Linked DNA regions of Homo sapiens: region 2 is linked to region 1. The links come from fine-mapping of genetic effects on gene expression. A gene starts in region 1. The other region holds a variant in brackets. All regions are shown on one strand. Distances are from middle to middle. Region 1 holds the start of SETX (senataxin). Region 2 overlaps SETX (senataxin).

Region 1 (2,788 bases):
GATCGTCTCAGCTGGGCTTAGTTGTGAACAAACACGGATTTGCATTCATATATGCCCAGACTCTGGCCCCAAAAGAACATTTCTGAAATTAAAAAACAAAAAACGAAATTGGTAAGTGGCATTTATACTCTATATCCCATCTGAGCCTGGTATCGATCCTATTACAGACAGATACTGCTGGCTGATGAGGAAGCCCAGATAGGTTAGACAACTTGGCTGTGGACTTCCAGGAAACAGCAGAACTGCAATTCTGACTCCCAGTTCCACAAGGGGCTGTCCCCACTCACGGGGACAGCTAGGCACCGAGCCAAAAATCCCCCAAGTTATTAGCCCGCGCAGGTAACATCAATCCTAGGATCCTCAGCTGTGTCACTTATCAAATACCACACTCGGCCTTCTCCTTGTGGAGCTCTTTTCCCTCAAGGCAGTCACCCCCGTTTCACTTGGGTCGTGCAAATTGCTGGGCACATCCTTAGATCCCCAGAAGTTGGGGAGGACGGACAAAGTCCTGTGGCCAGCAGCAAAAGCTCCAGCCCCTCCAAGTGGGAGAAACAGACTCTCCTCCAAACGAAGGGACCGGCCGGGCGCGGCGGCTCGGAGGATCCCTGGAGCAGCTGAGCTCAGCCTGGGAAACACAGCCAGGCCCTGTCTCTGCAACACATTTTGTTTTTAATTAGCCGGGCGTGGTGACGCGCGCCTATGGTCCCAGTTACTCGGGGGGATGAGGCGGAAGGATCGCTGGAGCCCAGGAAGACGAGGTTGCTGCGAGCCGTGACTGTTCCACTGCACTTCAGCCTGGGTGACAGAGCGAGACCCCGTCTCAAAAAAAAAAAAAAAAGAAAAAAGAAAAAAAAACAAAGGGAGGGACTCCAGGCGAGAGGCAGACGAGCGTGTGGAGGGAACCGACACTTTCCACCCCGAGACCTCCCGCTCAGCCCCAAGGAAACTACGCAGTATCCACACCAAAAACAGCTCACACGAGACCGCAGTGTAGACAACGGAAGGACAGGGGGTCGCAGCGGCCGGGTCCAGCGCGCAGGAAGGCAACAGGCGGCCGCCAGCCGTCGAGGGGTGCTCCCGCCCCCGCACCGAGGGAAGCGGCCGAGCCCGCGCCGACTCTTCCCCCATCCGCCCACCGGGACCTAGGCGCCGCGATGGTTCCCCGAAGCGGCCCTGCAAGCACAAGCCGCGCCTGCGCTCACGCCCGCCCGACCTACGGCCTCCAGCCCGCCGCTACCCTCACCGCTCTCTGGCTGGCGTCGGCCTCTAGCCCACCTCCATACCGGGCCCCGCTCTAGGCCACCAGCGGAAGTGCGGGCCCGCAGCCGCAGCTACCAACCAGCTGTTGCCGCGAGGTAGGCCCCGCCCCCGCGCTGAGTCGGCCGGCCGCAGGCCCCGCCCCGGCCGCTGCTTTCTGGTTTTGGTGCCCCCCAGGGGGCGGGGCATGGGAAGAGCGGCCGCGGTGCACCGCCCACGCCGGGCGCTGGCGTCACGTCCGGGCAGCTGGGGCCCGACCAATCCCGAGTCCCCGTCAGGGTGGACGGGGAGAGTTTGCCGCGGAACCTTGACCTCGGCCCCGCCCGGGGCTTCCTGCGGGTGGGGCGGCTCCGGGATGAGCTCTGCTGCGGGTGGGGTCAGCCCTTACCCGCTGGCCATTTCCGTTCCCTCTTTTTTCTTCTTTTTTCCACGCCTCAGGTGTCTCAGCGGATGTACTACGGTGACGAAGTAATTTTTCTCTTTAGATTTCCTTTAAAGACCTGAAATGTAAATTACATAAACGTGTAATTTCGGAGGAATATGTGTATATCCTTTATATTACAAGAAAGGGAGACCTTAGGTCTTGCGAACAATGCGCGCGATGCGCAACACAGCAGAGTAAATCCCTCGCTGGTGCGGTGGCTCCCGCTTCTAATCCCACCACTTTGGGAGGCCCAGGCGGGAGGCTCGCTTGAGCCCGGAGTTCAGAGACCAGCCTGTGCAACATAGCGAGACACCCGTATGTACAAAAAAAAATTAAAACTCAGCCACCGAGGCCGGGCGCGGTGGCTCACGCCTGTAATCCCAGCACTTTGGGAGGCCGAGGCGGGTGGATCACCTGAGGTCAGGAGTTCGAGACCAGCCTGACCAACATGGTGAAACTCCGTCTCTACTAAAAATAAAAAGATTACCTGGGCGTGGTGGCGGGTGCCTGTAATCCCAGCTACTCAGGAGGCTGAGGCATGAGAATGGCTTGAACCCGGGAGGCAGAGGTTGCAGTGAGCCGAGATCGCACCACTGCACTCCAGCCTGGGCAAAGGAGCGAGACTCTCTCTCCGGAAAAAAAAAAAAAAAAAAAAAAATTAGCACCTGTGGGCCCAGCTTGTTGGGAGGCTGAGGCAGGGGGTGGATATCCATTGAGACCGGGAGATCGAGACTGCAGTGAGCCGTGACTGTGCCACTACACTCCAGGCTGGGGAACAAAGCAAGACCCTGTCTCAGAAAAGTCTATAAATAAATAAAAATGAGTAAAATCCACTGGAAAGCCTATCCCCCCCCTTTTTTGTTTTTGAGATGGAGTCGCGCTCTGTCACCCAAGCTGAAGTGCAGTGGCGCAGTCTCGGCTCACTGCAACCTCCGCCTCCTGGGTTCAAATGATTCTCCTGCATCAGCCTCCCGAGTAGCTGGGAGTACAGGCGTGTGCCACACGCCCGGCTAATGTTCATGTTTTTAGTAGAGATGGGGTTTCACCATGTTGGCCAGGATGGTCTCAAACTCCAACCTCAAGTGATCCGCCCCGCCTCGACCTCCC
Region 2 (2,788 bases), 84 kb before region 1:
GTGTGAGACACAGGTGGATTCTAGAATGACTCAGCATCCTCATGTGAGACACAGGTGGACTCTAGAATGACTCAGCGTGCCCGTGTGAGACACAGGTGGACTCTAGAATGACTCAGCATCCTCATGTGAGACACAGGTGGACTCTAGAATGACTCAGCGTGCCCGTGTGAGACACAGGTGGACTCTAGAATGACTCAGCATCCTCATGTGAGACACAGGTGGACTCTAGAATGACTCAGCGTGCCCGTGTGAGACACAGGTGGACTCTAGAATGACTCAGCATCCTCATGTGAGACACAGGTGGACTCTAGAATGACTCAGCGTGCCCATGTGAGACACAGGTGGACTCTACAATGACTCAGTATGCCCATGTGAGACACAGGTGGACTCTAGAATGACTCAGCGTGCCCATGTGAGACACAGGTAGACTCTAGAATGACTCAGCGTGCCCGTGTGAGACACAGGTGGACTCTAGACTCAGCATGCCCATGTGAGACACAGATGGACTCTAGAATGACTCAGCATGCCAGTGAGACACAGGTGAACTCTAGAATGACTCAGCATGCCCATGTGAGACACAGGTGGACTGCAGGCAGCTTTTCCGGGACTCCTTCACTCCTCTAGAAGTCACAGTGCTTTCTTACTCTCCGTCCCAATACAGGGTACCGGGCACAGAAGAATTCCTATTAAAAACAGGAAACAAACCAAAACCTCGGGGCTTCCTTCAAAGTGATGCATCTATCAATTTCCTATTTTTACCTGGATAAGATAATTGGAAATTTTAACAGTGCAATCTTGAAGCCTTGAAAAATCCTAAAAATGTGGTACCAGCCTAATCACTTTATTCTTACATTTAAATATATCTAGACTGTTAAGATATTGTAGAACTAGTGTAGAAATACATGAACACCAGATAAATATTTCAGTAGATCAGAAAAAGAGCTCAGAAATAGAATTGATGTATGATAAAAGTGAAATTTCAAATTAGCTGGGAAAGAAAGGTCTATTTATAAACTGACCCTGAGATACAACTGGGCTCTGTATATGCAGCCCATCCCAGGGAGGGGCAAAGATTACTTTAATTACTATTTTATTTGAAAACGAACTAATTTATAACCTGTAAATTCTGTCTGCTTCTCATGACAAGAAACAAATAATCATGTAAGAGTCTTGGGCTTGGGATATTTTCTGTCACTCATACAGGTGTCCTTAGCATCTTAAATAAACTGACAGTAGTTAAGGTGAACAAATTTAGCCAAAGCAGGAAAACACAGAAAACAATGACACTTTGACACATACCATGGGGAGTAATATGCCTCTGCAAAGTATAATCTAATTATTTATTTGAATCTTATTAAATAAAAGAACAGATTCACACTATGAAATGGGTTAATATAAAAGACACCAAGGCCGGGCGCAGTGACTCACGCCTGTAATCCCAGCATTTTGGGAGGCCAAAGTGGGTGGAGCACTTGAGCTCAGGAGTTTGAGACCAGCCTGGGCAAC[C/G]TGGCAAAACACTGTCTCTACAGAAAAATACAAAAATTAGCTGGGCGTGGTAGCACATGCCTGTAGTCCCAGCTACTCGGGAGGCTGATGCAGAAGAATCGCTTGAACCCAGGAGGTGGAGGATGCAGTGGGCCAAGATTGCACCAAGATCTAACAGTGGGTCTATTTCACAACTTAAAAGAGAAACTTTCATAGTATTACACAGGTTTTCACAAAAGAAAATTAAAAAAGCAAATGGTGTTCTCTAACAGTGATAATGAACCTAATCCTGAACTATAAACAAGCAACAATGTATACAAGTATAAAAGAGCAACAATGACAGTAACTCACCCAATTGAACCTTGGATGCTATTTGCTCTGACACACGTAACAATAACACAATCCTTCTGCCGACCCTGGAATGCATCCACAGTGTCTACTTCTGCTGGTCTATTTACAAAAGAGAAACATATTTACTGGAAAAAGGAAGATAATTATTAAGTATACATATTTATAAACTAGTTTTTTGGTTTTTTTTTTTTGAGACGGAGTCTCACTCTGTCGCCCAGGCTGGAGTGCAGTGGCGCGATCTCAGTTCACTGCAAGCTCTGCCTCCCGGGTTCACGCCATTCTCCTGCCTCAGCCTCCTGAGTAGCTGGGACTACAGGTGCCCGCCACCATGCCCAGCTAATTTTTTGTATTTTTAGTAGAGACTGGGTTTCACTGTGGTCTCCATCTCCTGACCTCATGATCCGCCCGCCTCGGCCTCCCAAAGTGCTGGGATTACAGGCGTGAGCCACCGCGTCCGGCTTAGTTTTTTGGTTTTTGACAGTCTAGCCTCACTCTTGTCCAGGCTGGAGTGCACCAGCATATTCATAGCTCACAGTAACTTGAACACCTGAGCTCCGTCTCAGCCTCCTAAGTGGCTAGGACTACAGGCATGGACCACCACCCTAATTTTTCCATGTTTTGTAGAGATGGGGTCTTGCCATGTTGCCCAGGCTGGTCTCAAACCCCTGGCCCCAAGCAATCCTTCCACCTCACCCACCCAAAATGTTAGGATTATAGATGTGAGCCACCATGCCTGGCCTTACAGTCTTTATTTTTAAAGAAACTTAAAAAAAAAAAGAGAGAGAGAGAGAGACAGAGTCTCACTGCGTTGCCCAGGCTGGACTCAAACTTCTGGGGCTCAAGCAATCCTCCTTGCCTCAGCCTCCCAAGGAGATGCATGCACCACCATGCTCGGCTGCTAAGACATTTTAAAAACATTTTCTTGGAGGTTAGCCTGAATTTCCTCCTCTCT

Evidence for each region. PIP is the estimated chance that this variant, and not a neighbour inherited with it, causes the effect.
Region 2: its variant is the best candidate, but not a certain one, in a credible set for the expression of SETX in whole blood (TOPMed, PIP 0.85).

Annotation. Positions count from the first base shown.
Region 1 is chr9:132,353,674-132,356,461 of GRCh38, forward strand. It overlaps SETX (senataxin), which reads right to left and starts at 1,313. Exons shown (of 26, transcript NM_015046.7): 1 at 1,244-1,313; 2 at 1-82. RefSeq lists enhancers at 577-1,078, 898-2,097, 1,079-1,578 and silencers at 963-1,172, 1,223-1,612.
Region 2 is chr9:132,269,874-132,272,661 of GRCh38, forward strand. SETX (senataxin) reads right to left here. Exons shown (of 26, transcript NM_015046.7): 24 at 1,837-1,935. Among named protein-coding and RNA genes, the nearest start is that of SETX, 84 kb to the right of the region's middle. RefSeq lists enhancers at 1-678, 1-782 and a silencer at 1-57. The variant C/G (reference allele first, on the strand shown) is at 1,507.